Homo sapiens: one gene and its partners. The protein of the gene in region 3 purifies or fractionates together with the protein of the main gene of each other region. This does not show direct contact. Each region holds a gene or a part of one and is shown on either strand. Other genes may lie near its edges.

Region 1 (3,500 bases), on a different chromosome or scaffold from region 3:
CCATGACATTAAAAACGTGTCCTCAGGAACCAATAGGATATGCTGGGGAAAAGAAACCTAAGAATTAGTTGGCCAAATAATTTACATGATATGAAAGATGAAGAAATGATAATGTCGAAGGCCTGAACCATTTAGCTTTGTAGAAAATGTCACCTTTTAGGTTGAACTGGTTTCCCTGATTAAAAGGTGATCTTGGCTGGGCGTGGTGGCTCACGCCTATAATCCCAGCACTTTGGGAGGCCGAGGTGGGAGGATCACTTGAGGTCAGGAGCTCGATACAAGCCTGGCCAACTTGGTGAAACCCCATCTCCATTAAAAATACAAACATTAGGCTGGGCATGGTGGTGCATGTGTGTAATCCCAGCTACTCAGGAAGCTGAGCCAGGAGAATCACTTGAACTTGGAAGGCAGAGGCTGCAGTGAGCCAAGATCATGCCACTGCACTCCAGCCTGGGTGACAGAGCGAGACTCTGTCTCAAAAATAAATAAATAAATAAAAATAAAAGGTGATCTTGCAGGAATGAAAACATCTTTTCCAGCCTCAAAGTTTCTGAGAATAAACTGTATGGATAATGTTCTTTTCCCTTTTGGCCTTCCTAGAGGTTCCCATTACTAAGATTTCTGTGCATATGGATATATACAGAGGTGTGAAGAGTTACCTAATTCAGGGGTTTACAAGTGCTCTGAACTCTGGAGAGAATTTGGAGAAAAGCCATCAAGTTGATTAAAGAAATTAATGAAGCAATAAACAACAAGAAGCAATAAACTATTATTGCATGGGAAAATGGACAGGAAATCTTAATACACTGTAGTAAGGACAGTGACTAATTATTCTTCCACTCTTCTTAAGATGGTGAAAGAACTAACAGACTAAAACTACGGAGTTCATACGAAGAATTCCCTAAGAATGAGGTCTGTTAAAAGGTGGTGGATTATTCTTTGATCAATTTTTCAAAAAGAATCCTATGACGTGTGTCTAAGGGTTGCTTTACGAAGTGCTTGATCTAAACCACCTGAGTCCTCTACCATCATATGAAAATGTCTTCCTCAGAAACTTTGATAACTCTATTAGATGCTGATTTAAACACCACAACAATTTTAGACTAATTCAGTCCTGACATGCCATTCTAAGAAAATATGGAACAAGTTTATTTTTTCTTACATTTTATAATCATCATCCTTACCTGTCCATGGGTATCGCCTGCAGACTTGCCAGCCTCAAATTTTAAGGCCAACCCAAAGTCAGCAATGCAAGCTGTCAGGTTGTTTTTCAACAGCACATTTTTACTTTTGATGTCCCTTGCAAATAAAAAGAGTATTCAAATTAAGTTTAAACTAGTTACCTTTTTAAATTTTTTATTGAAAGCAGAAAAGGGGGAATATGTACACTATGAAAAAATAGTTACTTAAAATTATGAAATGCAGAGAAAGTGAGACAAACAAAGCTCAGAGCCCCATGCAGCCTTAAACACAAGAGCACGGTGACAAACCCCTATTCATAACATGGACAATAAGAAGGAATCCTACCTATAAAGCAGTTATATAAAAATCTGCCATACCAAAAAGATATGTTATCTATGTCACCCACCTACCAATCATAAAACTACTGTTAATATCTCAGAGTTCTGATTTGCAAACTCCCATAGAAACAGAAATTTTAAACCAAAATGAAGAAACTTTTAAAAAATAGCTGAATTGGGGCCTTCTGCTTATTGGTAGAGACCTACATTTTAGAATAATCCCTTATTATAGAGGTTCTTATATTCTTCCACCTGGTTGTAGAAAAGCATCTTATGGAATGAATAACAGAAACTTTTTACCATAAACATACACTGCTCTAGCTAGATCCTGGTGTTCTGAAAAGGGTAACAGTTTTAAGGCAGTAAGATATCCTCTTCTACACACCTGTCTCAACTGGCTCATCCTAGAGATTACTATACCCTAGTTAAATACATCTATGCCAATGACTAGTGGTTAAATTTATGTGCAGACATATAGACCAATAATGGGATACTGAAAGCACAAGCAGACACTCCCAAATGCTATAAAAGCTAATCGATCTTAGTTTCAAAAGACTTTCAGGCCCTTAATAACTTTGGGGGTCCTTAAGGATTAATTCCCTATGTGACCAGGTAGGGCAAGGGAAAATCGAAGACGAGGCCAATAGACTGCATGTAAGAAAGTGAGAAGAGTTATTTCTGAGGTAGACGTCATTTAAAGTTTGCAAAATCAGAACCTAAATTAGAGGCTGACTTACAATAATGCCTCCCAGCAACCTAAAACATCGCCTGGTGGCACTCAGCTAAGTATCTGTTCTGTGAATCAGTTAATGCCTACTTTTCAAACAACCATCTTTAAATGGAACACAAGACAACAAATTGAATCCCACGTTCAAGAAAATTAAATACATGGCAAACTGAATTCCATGTTTAAGACACAATCATTTTTCCTTTTGCGGGCATGACAACTGTTGGGTCTAAGTAGTATTTCTTCACTGGACAACTGTTTTAAGTGATGCCTCCCTTTAAGACTTGGCTCAGGGTACAGATAAGGTCATTCAAAAAACAAGCAAGGAAGACATTCAAAGTCTCTCCTTCATTACATGCCCTTGGATAATAATCCCTATTGATAAATCATGTTTTGAGGTAAAACAAATGTCTTTTTCCTTTGAGATCGAGAAAATATAGTTTATTTTCAATCATGCTTTCAGAAATGAGATGAAGTAGATCATTAAACTTTACCAATAATGTTAACATATACATTATCCAAAATACTTCCTGGCCAATCTCAAAGCTAATTTTAAAAAACAAATGAAAACTGACTGTCTTGTAAAGCATGATTGCATAACAAAGGAAAAATTAAAATTTACCCAGGGGCTTAAAAGTTTAGTAAATATATACTCAATTATCTGGGAAAACAATATAAATTTAGTCTACCTGTGAGATATGGCAGGTTTGTGGCCATCTTTTAGGCCAGGTATATCCTCATGTAAATATGCCAATCCTCTAGCCATGGTTTCTGCAATATGACACAGTTCATTCCAAGAGACCACATTAGCCTTAAGAAAGTCTGATAGTGAACCCTAAAAAAAGAGGGAAAAAAAGAAACTTATGTTCTTGACAAAGGCCATATGTATAAGGAGACTTTTCTTTTTACCTATAAGAGGTTGTGAGTTTCCCTTTCAGGGAAAAATAATATCCAAGAAACAATCTTTCTGGAATGGTTCAAATGGTTCAAATTTCCTTCCATTTCACATTAATAAACATTTGACCAGAAGGAAATACCAGAGCTTTAAACTTTTGTTACAAGAATAGTCAACTTCCACCAATCTATAAGACAAGTTTGTTTTTTTTTTTTTTTAAAGACTAGTTGAAAATCTAAGGTTCTAGAAAATATTTTAAAAGTTAAAATATCCTGACTATAGAGTTGTTATATCATGGGACTAGCAGAACACAAAATAACAACATAAAATAACAACTAATATGTAGAATATTCCTCTA
Region 2 (3,500 bases), on a different chromosome or scaffold from region 3:
CACTTTGGGAGGCCGAGGTCGGGGGGAATCACTTGAGGCCAGGAGTTCGAGACCAGCCTGTCCAACATGACAAAACCCCATCTCTACTAAAAATACAAAAAGTAGCTGGGCTTGGTGGTGAATGCCTGTAATCCCAGCTACTTGAGAGGCTGAGGCACTAAAATTGCTTGAACCCAGGAGGCAGAAATTGCGGTGAGCCGAGATCACGCCACTGCACTCCAGCCTGGGCGACTGAGCGAGACTCTGTCTCTAAATAAATAAATAAATAAATAATCGATGAACGAATAAATGAGAACTAAATGGGGCAATGTGTATAAATCGGCACTTAGTAGATAATCAATTTATGTAATTTACTGTAGCTTTCATTCTTGAATATATGTAAAAACATGTAAAGACTTATCAACATTGCATTGATTTTTCATATAAAGATATTATCTTTAGGCAGGGTGTAGTGGCTCATGCCTATAGTCCCAGCGTGTTGGAAGGCCAAGTGGGGAAGATCTCTTGAACCTAGGGGTTCCAGACTAGCCTGGACAACATGGCAAAACCCTGTCTCTATAAAAAAATACAGAAATTAGTGGGGCATGGTGGCATGCACCTGTAGTCCCAGCTACTCGAGAGGATTGCTTGAGCCAGGAGGTTGAGGCTGCACTGAGACAAAATCACACCCCTATATACCAGCTTGGGCAAGAGTGTGAGACTGTCTCAAAAAAAAAAAAAAAAAAAAAAAATATATATATATATATATATATATATATATATATATATACACACACACATATATATTTGAATTTTATTTACGGAAGCATCAGAAAAGAATAAAATACTTAGGAACAAATTTAACAAACAGCATAAGACTATACAAAACACTGCTGGGAGAAATTAAAGGAGACACATGTATTAGTTTGTTCTCATGCTGCTAATAAAGAGATAACCCAAGACTGGGTAATTTATAAAGGAAAGAGGTTTAATAGACTCAAGTTCCACATGGCTGGGGAGGCCTCAGGAAACTTACAATCATGGCAGAAGGGGAAGCAAACATGTCCTTCTTCACATGGCAGCAACAAGGAGAAGCACAGAGCAAAGAGAGGGGAAATCCTTTTATAAAACCATCAGATCTCGTGAGAACTCAACTATGACACACACAAAATTCTATTTTTCTGCTAACAGAAATAAAATCCCCAACTGATGGACCACTTTTCTGATCTAGTTTTTGATTGTTTTTTAGGAACTTAAAATTCTTAGTGACTCATATTTTAAAATGCACAGACTCAGTTTCTGTTTTAAGGAATATGGCACAAAGATATTTAGGGAAAAAGTATGTATGTACACGCACATATATACATAGTATATGTGCACACAAACATTAATGAGGTGGTAAAACTTCTAAAATAGAGTCCATATCAACATCCTCTTTCTGGAGTCTGTCTTTCTTCCATTCTTTTTATTTATCTCCCCTAATTAATACTGGACTGTTTTTTAACTTGTATACTTTTTTTCCTTTCTTTTTTGTAGTCTGCCTTCTTTCTATTCTCTTATTATTTCACCATTTTCTCTTGATAGGGAAAACAGCAGCCAGGCAATAGAACTTTACATTTGTTTTCACCACAGAAGGAAGCTATCATTGTGTGGTACAGAGGAAAACTTGTTTTCCTTACCTAATGACTTTTATTTTATATTGGAAAAATCATGTCTCTTATGGAAAGTTATGATGTTTGTGAGTCTCTGGCTGTCTATGGCATTAGGACAGTTGACAATATATCAACAGTATTTTATAAAACTGCTCTTGGGGCAGATACTTACCATTCTGAGTGGAGAACAATCAGATACTCAAACTAAAGTTCAAATACAAATATTTAAACCAAAGTTGCCATTGTCTTGTTATTTGTAAAATGAGAAAAGTAGGGATGAGAATAAGCTACCTGGCAGGAATGTATAAAGATTAGAGATGATCATGTAAAAGGCTTAAAACAATCTCTGATATGAAGCAAGTGCTGAATACATGAAAATCATTATCACTGGAAATTTTGTTTGTCCTTAATTGTCCTTAATTGACTATGTTGTATTGATTTGTTTATTCATTATTTCTTCCACAATCATGAATCCCATTTGAATCCTAAACTGCTGGCCACCATTAAACTTATTATTTGTTAACTTCTTTGTTTTGTTTTACAGGCAACAATTGGCATTGACTTTTTATCAAAAACTATGTACTTGGAGGATCGAACAGTGAGTAATATTTTCAGTGTGCAATTTTCTGCAACATTCCAGGTTAGAAAACTGCAATCAAAGTTATCAATGATTGTCACCATAAGAAGTACTTAGCAAAGTTACCAAAGATAGTTTACAGTTGTTGAGAAAAACTCTTATTACCGAGTGAGTAGTACTTGGCAGTCATCTTGATTTGGAAAAATGAAAACAAAGAGCTTTACAGAGAATTAAAGGAGAATTTTTATGAAGAAATTAAACCTGCTAAAGACCTTCTAAATGCCACCCTTGAGGCATTCAAAAAGATTTCAATTTGTGAACTTCAAGATTTTTTTTGTCAGGATAGGATGCGTATCAAAGTGACTGACAAAAAAGAAGTTATGTGGGCAGGGTGCGGTGGCTCACACCTGTAATCCCAGCACTTTGGGAGGCTGAGGCAGGTGGATCATCTGAGGTCAGGAGTTTGAGACCAGCTTGGCCAACATGATGAAACCCCATCTCTATTAAAAATACAAAAAATTAGCCAGGCGTGGTGGCGGGCGCCTATAATCCCAGCTACTTGGGAGGCTGAGGCAGGAGAATCGCTTGAATCCAGGATGCAGAGGTTGCAGTGAGCTGAGATTGCGCCATTGCACTCTAGCCTGGGCAACAAGAGCGAAACTCCGTTGCAAAAAAAAAAAAAAAAAGTAATGTGTATTTATTTGTTGGATTTTTGTCTTTCATCCTTTGGAATGTTTTCTTTAAATACAGTGTAAAATCTGTATTCTAGCCCACTACCCCTTGAAGAGATACTTGTCACCTAAACAGTGAATATCTTAAATGCAGTACTTTGAGACCTGCACCCAAAAACATTATTTAATTTCCAGTGTTATTTCTTAGGTGTTTTTTTTTTCCTGAATATTCTCTTTTATGTTTTGATATATAGCATGTCATTTCTTAAAATTTGAAAGCGGCCAGGTGTGGTGGCTCACGCCTGTAATCCCAGCACTTTGGGAGGCCAGGATGGACAGATCACCTGAGGTCAGGAGTTGAAGACCAGCCTGGCCAACATGGCGAAACCCCATCTTTTCTAAAAATACAAAAATTAGCTGGGCGTGGTGGCGGGCGCCTGTAATCCCAGCTACTCGGGAGGCTGAGGCAGGAGAATCGTTTGAACCCGGGAGGCAGAGGTTGCAGTGAGCCGAGATCACACCACTGCACTTCAGCCTGAGCGACAAGAATGAGAGTCTGTCTAAAAAAAAAAAAAAAAATTTGAAAGCTTGGAAACGACTTTATCATGATGCAAGAACTTG
Region 3 (6,035 bases):
GCCAAGCTCCTTCTGACCTCAGGACCTTTGCATATTCAGCTCTTGCGACAAAGTGCTCTTCAAAGCACCCAGATTTCAACAGGGCTGGAAAATGCTCACCATTCAGGGCTCTGCTTGGTGTTGTCTGCTAAGGGAGGTGTTCTCTGACCCCCAGTACTTCAGTAGCTCCCCCACCACCGAGTCGCTTACTAGTTCATGAACACCTCTAGTTATTTGCAATTATTTGAAACAGTTCCTAGTTTCTTATGAACACCTCTTGTTTTCTGCAATTATTTGTCTGGATAATAAGTGTGCCTGTCATCTCCCATAGTGCAGGATTGTGAGTGTTTTTGCTCACTGTCTCCTTAGAGCCTAGAATAGTGCCTGCCCCATAATAGGGGCTCAATGAATTATGTTGAAGCAATGAGTGAATAAAACACAGCACAGACAGTGCCAAGTTTGAACCTTATCTCAGCCACCTGCTAGCTCTGGGACCCCGGACAAGCTCAGAGTCACACTGGGTTTTCAGGTCTCATTATCTTCATCTGTAAAATGGTGACAATAGTGCCACGAATAGTGCCATAAAGGCACTCTGAAAACACTACAGTGCAACATGACCACTGATGGATTATTATCCTTATTATCTCTGATGTTAGTGGAGTGTGGGGCAGGAGGGACTCCCTCCACCCGTCCCAGAGCCACTGCAGCCTGCTCACCTGGAGACACATCCAGCTGGAAGCCCATCAAGGGGTACAGGATCCCAGAGGTGTTGCGCATGCACCAGTATCGGCCTGAGTCCTGGAGCTTGAGGGCCACCATGGTGATGTTGACCACCTTGGCCTGGGCATCGTCCTGCAGCAAGTAGCGGGGCCCTTTCACCCAGACTCGGGCAAAGCCAGGCTCACACTTCTTCTTCCTGATTTTGCACCAAACCTTGCCCTCCACGCGGTTTTTGTAGCCCTTATAGGAGCACTGCACAGACAGAGTCTCCCCTTCAAGGAGCCTCACTTTTGTGTATACACTGTCAGCAGAGGGGCCTGTGGAGACAATACTTATTGAATAAGGTCTGGCAAGAGGAGAGGAAGAAGACATCATGAAAGTTGAAGATCATGGTGAAGGGTAGAGTGGATATTGTCCTGCTGTCACAGAACCCACAGATTGAGGGGGAAATACAGCCCCGCCTTCAGGGAGCTTGCCCCAATCTGAAGGGAGGTGAATGGGCCCTGAAAACAGCTAGCTTCCAGTATTACAGTGGAGACACAACCCCCGCTCTCAGGGAGCTTTCAGTCTGATGGAGGAGGCAGGTATATCCCTCAGTGAGTCCCCAGTCTAATGGAGGAAACGCAGCATTTACACTCGGAGCTCCATCAGACACAGCCCCTTTCCTCATGGTATTTTCTAGTCTGATGGGAAAGTGACAAGCTCTGTCTTCAGGGATTCCCAGGGAATTCATTTTTGTTTTGTTTTGTTTTGTTTTGTTTTGTTTTTGAGACGGAGTCTCGCTCTGTTGCCCAGGCTGGAGTGCAGTGGCACGATCTCAGCTCACTGTAACCTCCGCCTCCTGGGTTCAAACTATTCTCCTGCCTCAGCCTCCTGAGTAGCTGGGACTACAGGTGCCTGCCACCACGTCCGGCTAATTTTTTGTATTTTTAGTAGAGACGGGATTTCACCATGTTAGCCAGGATGGTCTCAATCTCTTGACTTCGTGATCCACCTGCCTCGGCCTCCCAAAGTGCTGGGATTGCAGGCGTGAGCCACTGTGCCCGGCATCCCAGGGAATTCTTGTGGGAAAAACCCAGGTCATGCCCTCAGTGAGACAGATGCAGAGACACAAACACAGGTCATTAAGTTGTGAAATTTCAGTGCCCAACTAACTAGGTAGATAAGAAAATCTAGTATTTGAAAATATGATTAACAGTTATTTATTTCACAAATAGGTTCACTTAGTCCTCTTTAAATAATAACTCTCCTTAGTTCATTCCATCTGGTGTTTAGTTTTAAAATATTCTAGTTACATAAAACCCATAGATCAAGCCTGTCTAAATATACATGTAAACAAACTCCCAATGGAGTGTGAACCACAGGATTCTACAATTATTCACTTTCCACCTGCAATATCTTTCTCTCTATGCTGAGGAGTAAGATGTGGTCCAAGCCTTCATAATCCACAGTCTGGTAGAGACAGAGCAGAACTGGGGTGTGCAGGGTGACTCAGGGGACAGAGAGAGGGAGAAAGCTGCCTTGGGCTCCCTCCACCCCTCTGCCTGCCTTAAGCTCAGCTGACTCTTCTGATAATTTCACCCCAGAGTCTTCCAAAAAAACCACATATAAAAAGACTCTCCCCCATAGTAGAGAACAGAGAGCACACATTTTGGAGTCAAAATAAACAAGGGTTGAAACCCTGTTTCTACCACTTAGTGGTGTGATTAGGTCACCTGTTTGATACAGAAATATCAAAACAGACACTTGACTGATACAGAAATATCTCTGTTTCTTTATCAGTCAAGTGAGAATAGCACCACACCCCTCACAGGTTGCTGTGAGAATTCTGCCCCAGGTCAGTGCTTTGCACACAGTGCATGCTCAACTCATGCTTCCTTTTCCCACATGCTGGGGCCTCCCAGTTCCCCCAATGGAACCCAGAGCTGTGACAGTCAAGGGCCCAGAATCCAGGACATCTGTCCCACCAGAATCCAGGATATCCGTCCCAAGTCCCAGCCAGCAGCCACTAGAGCTGAGGCTCTGTGTGAAGCAGCACCCTCTCTAAGCATCCCTCTGTCCCTTGCAAACTAAACAGAATGATCCAACTTCATTATTTGGTGGATGAGCCCAGGATTTCTTAGCACAAGAGAGACCCCTTTCTGCCCTGGCAGTGGGAAGCTGTTTCTCTACCCTCTGGGAGGTGCAGAGTTGGGTGACCTTGGGATGGGTCTCCAGGGCAATGTCTTCATGTGTGCCTACACCTCCCACCCCTCTCACAGGCAGTGGTGAGTTTTGCCAACCCCCACCATGCCCAGAACTGAACAGGAAGTGGTAACTTGGTTGCCATGGCAGCGAGAGGGGCAGGAATGGGTGAGGTTCCTCAAGGAGCATTGGTATCTGTGAGGTGGGAAAGGCATTCACACACTGGTCCCTTCAGGACAGAGGCAGGGACAGGATGTGGCATCAGCATTTCAAGAAAAATGTTCAAATTCAGTTCAAAACACACATGATGCAATGATTGCTGTCATAACTAAGCAGGGCTTCCTGACAGAGGCCAAGCAGAGAAAGCTATTTGTGTGAGGAAATTGAGGGCTCTGCTTTAAAGCCTGAGGAAGCCTAGCAGATAAAGGAGCCAATGCAGAGAGGGTCCAGAGCTTTATCTTGGCTTGGGAGGCCTGGGTTAGCTTCGCCTGGGGCCTGATATTAGGGTAAAGAGCTAAGTCAGCCCTAATCTCCTCCTTCCCCAACCCACAAAACACTAAACAAGAAAACTGCTGGTAAGGAGGGTAAGAAAAAGGCCCTGAGCTCCTGCCTCTGTACCCACTCCCTCCTCCACAAGTCAGCCCCTTCTCCCCTCACCTGAGACGCAACCCTGTGGCCACAGCAGCAGCAGCAGCAGGAAGGCTGGGGCCATGGTTCCATCCAGCTGGGCAGTGTCAGGCCTGGAGATCCAAGGTGAGGGCCCACCCGACACAGGATGTGCCACCTGGGCCTGCCAGGGAAGGACCCGGGGTTCTAAAAGTGAAGCTGCCCATTTAGGGAAGTGAGGCAGTGTGGGACCCACTGCCCCCAGCCAACCGCAGGGATTCATTGAGCCTATTATGAGGGCGGTGCTGGCAGCTGTTTCCGCCCTTTTCCTCGGAACTTCAGGCAGGTGTGGCTGCTCCACCCAGTCTGGGGCCCCAAGCCGGGAGGACTCACAGTCAGAGGGCTCCCCGCCCTCCCCAACCTCCCCCAGAAACTGGTCCCTAGGATCCAGCAAGGGGGCTGGGGTGAGGCTTCTGGAACGTCAGGTATAGACCTTCCTGGAATCTTCTGGGCTCAGAGACCCAGGGGTGCGGGCTCTTAGGCTGAGATGGAGCATCTCAGACCCTAGTTTCTTACATATATACATTCACAGGGAAGTTCTTATAAACTCTCATTCATTCATTCATTGCAGATTCTTTCTGTTCCTTCCTCTCTCTCTCTCCCAGGCTCCTGGCTGCTCAGAACAGTCACTTGTGTTCACTGTTGCAAATAACCTCTTACAGGCTCACTTGAAATCTTACTTTTGTCAAGCGGGAAAAATGCAAATTGTTAAGACTCAGGGCATAAATTTTGGGTTGAGGGAGGGGTTCCTGTACTCTCACACACAGGTGTGCATGCACATGCACTCACACTCACAGTCTCACTTTGTCTTTTATTCACTTTCACACACACACACACACGCCCATGCACACAGTCTCACACACACCCCAGCAGCCTCTCCTTTTCCCTATCCATACGTCTCCTCTCTCTGTCCCTCTCCCTGCCTCTCCTCCTGTCGACTCTACTCACCATCAGCTCCCTCTAGACTCCTAGTCCCTCGTGCAGGCTTCCTACAGCCTCCGCAGTACTTCCCCTCACCCACCTCATCTCAAGACCCCCTTCCTCCCCTGCCTCCAGCCTACGTCAGCACGCAGGCAAGTGCCCTCCACTTCCTCCTGCTCAATGCTATCTCGCCTGTACAGCCACCAGCTCCAGTGGAAATGACCCAGCACTAGGCCCAAGACCACACCCTTCACTTACCCCAAGGCCTAGAATCAGAAGCATCAATTTTTGATGTCCGGTACCTGTGTCATCTGCTCCTTCAGTGTGTGGGGACCCAGCTGGACTCCCGTGATTATGTATGCTCCCCCTACTCACTAGTGCCATGTTTCTACTCCTTAGATGGGACTGTCAAAAGGTAAACTGAGGCACAATAAAATTTTAAACAGATTATTTCAGCAAACAACAATTCATGAATCAGGCAGCTCCAAACAGAAGAGGTTGAGGAGCTCCACTGGGGGAATGCAAGGGGAAGACTCCTACAGGACAAGTAAACTGAAGAAAATATTTAATTAGTTATAGTTATATAGTTCCCTTATTTGGCCTATCCTGTTGGAAAGACCCTAGTTAATTATATAAGTTTCTTTTGATTGGTTGAGCTTAAGTTCTATTTTTCCTTAATATACACATTTACAAGAAATAGCTCGTGTTAAGTTTCACTGATATTTGCAAATCAAGCAAAGTTGAGGTCACTTATGAGGCCTAACTGTTTTTTTAATTTTTGCTCAGGGACTCTTCAGGCCTGGTCTCCATTTTCATTAATTTTAACAGGACTCAGAGCAAAAAGTCCTCAAGCTTGCATGGCCACAATCTTAAATTGACCTTGAAGCCCCAAGCTCCAAGCAAAGAAGTCTATCTCGGCTGACCCTAAGCTTTTGTAGTCTCTCAACTCATTCACTCACTCATTAATTCATTCATTCATTTGTTCATTCCCACAACCTCATTGCTATGCATGGGGCTAGGTAGGCACTGGGGGCGTAGGAATGAGACACGATTGTCACTTGAGACCTCTCAGCTCACAGACGTGTTTTGTTTTCCTTATTCACCCTTCCTTTTTCAATGTTTCTCACCCAGTCCTCAGAACTTCCTGAGCTCCCTGAGTTCAGGGGCCATCTCCCCTCCCCAGCACACACAGTAAGTTCCTCCATCCCTTCCCCCATCAGAACAGTAAGTTGCTTCAGGAGTGGGGGATTTATCTCTTGTGGGGACTTTATGCGCTTGGAATCCATGATTCTATGAAACTGATACAGTGCGCCCAGCACTGAGCCAATCATCGTCTAAAGTGTGACCCTTGGGATCACTGTGCTGATGAGGGTAGAAAGAATCAAACATTCATTCGCTGATCGAGGAAGTATGCACTGGATTCAATCTTTCTTAAGAGAAATTTGGAAGCATTGGTCAAAATCATTAAAAATACGTATACATTAGACTTTTACATCTATCATTTGATTTAATACAGCAGTGTATTTTGTCTTTATATTTATTTTTCCCATTTAAAAATTAAGGCC
Region 4 (3,500 bases), on a different chromosome or scaffold from region 3:
ATTAGCCGGGCATGGTGGTGCCTGCCTGTAATCCCAGCTACTCGGGAGGCTGAGGCAGGAGAATTGCTTGAACCCAGGTGGTGGAGGTTTCGGTAAGCCGAGATCGCACCACTGCACCCCAGCCTGGGCAACAGAGCGAGACTCCATCTCAAAAAAAAAAAAAAATATTATTCTGGAGCGACAGTTGGGGAACAATGGAGAGATATTCAGGGAGGTGGGGAGTCTAGGTAGATGGATTAAAAATAGGAATCAAGGGAAAAGAAGGAGAGGAGAAATGGTACAGATCTGGGAAGTCAGAATAGGGTATTCGGGAGGGGATGAAGAGGTGATTATCTCACTTGCACATCGAGCTCCTGGCTTTGAGGGTCTTGTAGGAAGAACCGGAACGCTTCCTCCCACACTGGGCAGTTGGTACTGTAGACAGCCTGGAGATGTAGAGGAGGGATTAAGGGTGTATACCACAGCACCATTCCTGTTTCTGCAGAAAACCCCTGCATGTAACAGGCATTCTAAAGGGGAAACCATCCCAAGAATAGGCCTCTCCCTGTCCTACCTGGCCACCCACAATGATGTCCTGGCCCTCACCTTGCTCTCCTGAGTCACATCCTGAATTGACAGTTGTACCATAGGGTTGGGTTCCTTGTTCCCCTTCTTCAGCTGTGGTGGGTACAATTCAGAGGTCACCATCTTGGGGGATTCGGTTTTGGTTTTGGTGAAGGAAGGTGGGATCGCATCAGAATCCTTTCCCTGAGATGGATCTGATCCCCTCCCTGGGACCCTTATGTTACATGCTGATACTTCTGGAGCAAAGCAGGCAGGGACATTTGCATCCTCAGCAAGGCAGGGTTGGGGAATGTTACATCCAGGGCTCCTGTTCACCCAGCCAAACTCACAGGAAGATCCTGGGCCCGATCCAGGTAGACAACTAAGATGGCAGCTGACGGGGGATCTGGTCGAGAGGAGACTCCCCAATTCCACTGTAGAACCTGGGGAGGGGTGGTAGTAGTCAGATCTTGGTCCCCGTTCCAAGTCCCCTACACTTCCAGCTACCTATTTCTCCCCTGCCAGCTTCCTATTTCCCATGTGGCTTACCTGCTCCAGTTTCTCTGCATCTGACAAAAGTGACAGCCATTCTAGCCTCAAGTGAACTTGGCCTTGCCCACCTTGTAGAGGGAACCACTAGAAGAAATTGAGATGTAGTAGAGATCAGATACCTGCTCAACTACTTCCCTACCAATGTAGCAACTACTATCTACCCAAAGGGTGAGATCAGCCCCCACCTTCCTCTTCTCCCAACTTACATCATCCAGAACGCTAGCCTGTAACACCTTCCCTACATCCAGCTTCATTCTGAGGGTTGGCGGGGGAGAGGGTAGTGAAAGGAAGAAAAGGGTAGTGTTGTAATTAGCAGCATGTCAGTGGCCCTCCACTCACCCACCCAGAAATGACTGGCAGATCTCAGACTCCCTTATTCCTCTCAGAAGATATTCACCTGCATGCGTGAGTATGTGCATGGTAGGGGCTGGGGGTGGGGAGGTTAGGAAGGAAAATGATACATGATTCCCAGGCCCAGAAAGTGAGTATAATTACCTCCAGAACCTCGGTAGCATGGGCTTTATTTTTTTTATTTTTATTTTTTTTCTTTAGAGACAGAGTCTCGCTCTGTCGCCCAGGCTGGAGTGCAGTGGCGCGATCTCGGCTCACTGCAAACTCCTCCTCCCGGGTTCACCCACCATTCTCCTGCCTCAGCCTCCCGAGTAGCTGGGAGTACAGGCGCCCGCCACCACACCCGGCTAATTTTTGTATTTTTAGTAGAGATGGGGTTTCACCGTGTTAGCCAGGATGGTCTCAATCTCCTGACCTCGTGATCCGCCCGCCTCAGCCTCCCAAAGTGCTGGGATTACAGGCATGAGCCACCGTGCCTGGCCAGCATGGGCTTTAGAATCCTAACAGGCAGAGTCTCACCTGCCCAGAAAGTCATCTTTATCTGGATCCTTGTCGAACACCTCCACTTCAATCTCCTGCCCTGGGACCTCGTGTACCATCACCTGGGGAACACAGAAGGCTGAGTGTCTCATGGGGCTGCAGCTGTGAGGATCATCCAATCAGCATCTTCTCTCACAACCTCCTGGGGCTTCCCCATTTCACAGAGCTGCTCAACTCTCCCACCTCATAAGTCTCTCCCCACTGTGGGTTGAGTTCTTCATCAATGACACGACTGCAGAATGTCTGGGTACCCAAACGCACAAGTGCATATGGGTCTGACTTGCCCTCAATCAGGCCCTTCACATATTTGTCCTTGGAACTCAGCCCTCGAGCAGCCAGCAGGTGAATTCGAATAATGCCCTGGAGGAAGGAATCAGATGGTGAGAAACTAAGGACCCAGCAAGGGGTTCCTGAGAGAAGGATCTATCTAGTGGGGGAAAGGCCATACCCTGGGCAGAGGGGAACGCAACTGAGCCACATCTTGAAGGTCAGGCACAAGGGGCACCAGTAATCGGTTGGGCAACACGAGGAAGGCAGCAATGGAGTCCATGATCATGGTGTCAGAGAGTGAGCTGAATGGGGGAGTAGAAAGGAGTGGGTATGGCCTCAACTTCCAATTTTCTCCTAACCCCAACTATGTTTCCCACACCCAAGAGAGACCTAAAGCTGTAAGAAAGTCCTTTTGTGAAAATCCTTTGTGCTACTCTTCTACCCTAATTCCCCACCTACTGCTCTCTCCCTTCTTCACTGCCATCCCCATTGCCTTTTGCAGTCTTCAGCCCTCTGCATTCCCTTCCTGCTCCCCCAACCCAAAGAAAAATCACAGTATCAAACTTTGCAGGGGTATTTGTCTTTGCTCCCCAAATGAAGTTGAGGCTCCTAGAGGACACAAGCAGCATCTTTGACTGCTCTGTGTCCCTTAAACCCCCAACCCAGCGCTGGAACACTCAGCAGGTGCTCAGTAAGTCCTTGATACCTAAGTCCTGGGATATCCAGCAGGTTGGTCATCCCTGTCCAGTTGATGTCTAGGGTCTGGAGGGAAAGAGCAGGGGTCAGGACAGATCCTATGGGGTGTGGTCATACCCATCAAACAGTTGCCAGAACCCCTCGGCCTTCTTGTCAGTTCCCTTCTCATTCCCCTTCACTGGCTGCCCTCATCCTCCCAGTCCTCTGTTTCTCCTGCTTCCCCATACCCCTTCATTGTTTTCCCTTACCGGGCGTCGGATGAAGAACATTGACACAGCCCCCACGAAGGGAAGGTCCCCAATGAGTGGCTCCAGTATCACCCGCAAAACGCCATGTAGCTGAGGCAAGAAGAGAAAATCAAAGCCTTTCCCCAGAAAAGTCCCTCTTCTGTCCTCCCAGACTTTCTCAGCCTTGGTCTTTCCAACCTCACACTTCCCCATATCCCATGAAACGCAGGACAAACATTCCCTATTATGTGGCCCCTGACATCTGGCCTACCTGCATGCCCTTGACTCCTGCTTTGCAAAAATATTTCTTCACTTCCACAT

What was found.
Region 1: the proteins of TREML2 (region 3) and ACVR2A purify together in Homo sapiens (affinity purification with mass spectrometry; one large-scale study listed by BioGRID and IntAct). This does not show direct contact.
Region 2: the proteins of TREML2 (region 3) and RAB6A purify together in Homo sapiens (affinity purification with mass spectrometry, with the first as the bait; one large-scale study listed by BioGRID). This does not show direct contact.
Region 4: the proteins of TREML2 (region 3) and ESYT1 purify together in Homo sapiens (affinity purification with mass spectrometry; 2 studies listed by BioGRID and IntAct, with this or other methods). This does not show direct contact.

What each region holds. Positions count from the first base shown.
Region 1 is NC_000002.12:147,918,029-147,921,528, reverse strand, and holds part of ACVR2A (activin receptor type-2A isoform 1 precursor), read right to left. Parts: intron 3,083-3,500; coding exon 2,937-3,082; intron 1,300-2,936; coding exon 1,185-1,299; intron 1-1,184. UniProt on the Homo sapiens protein: On ligand binding, forms a receptor complex consisting of two type II and two type I transmembrane serine/threonine kinases.
Region 2 is NC_000011.10:73,719,575-73,723,074, reverse strand, and holds part of RAB6A (ras-related protein Rab-6A), read left to right. Parts: intron 1-2,175; coding exon 2,176-2,229; intron 2,230-3,500. UniProt on the Homo sapiens protein: The small GTPases Rab are key regulators of intracellular membrane trafficking, from the formation of transport vesicles to their fusion with membranes.
Region 3 is NC_000006.12:41,197,414-41,203,448, forward strand, and holds the start of TREML2 (trem-like transcript 2 protein precursor), read right to left. Parts: upstream 3,737-6,035; 5' UTR 3,596-3,736; coding exon 3,541-3,595; intron 1,017-3,540; coding exon 696-1,016; intron 1-695. UniProt on the Homo sapiens protein: Cell surface receptor that may play a role in the innate and adaptive immune response. Acts as a counter-receptor for CD276 and interaction with CD276 on T-cells enhances T-cell activation.
Region 4 is NC_000012.12:56,131,267-56,134,766, reverse strand, and holds part of ESYT1 (extended synaptotagmin-1), read right to left. Parts: coding exon 3,451-3,500; intron 3,291-3,450; coding exon 3,201-3,290; intron 3,019-3,200; coding exon 2,963-3,018; intron 2,559-2,962; coding exon 2,435-2,558; intron 2,347-2,434; coding exon 2,170-2,346; intron 2,049-2,169; coding exon 1,966-2,048; intron 1,351-1,965; coding exon 1,302-1,350; intron 1,180-1,301; coding exon 1,093-1,179; intron 987-1,092; coding exon 894-986; intron 688-893; coding exon of another isoform or gene 658-687; coding exon 586-657; intron 426-585; coding exon 339-425; intron 1-338. UniProt on the Homo sapiens protein: Binds calcium (via the C2 domains) and translocates to sites of contact between the endoplasmic reticulum and the cell membrane in response to increased cytosolic calcium levels.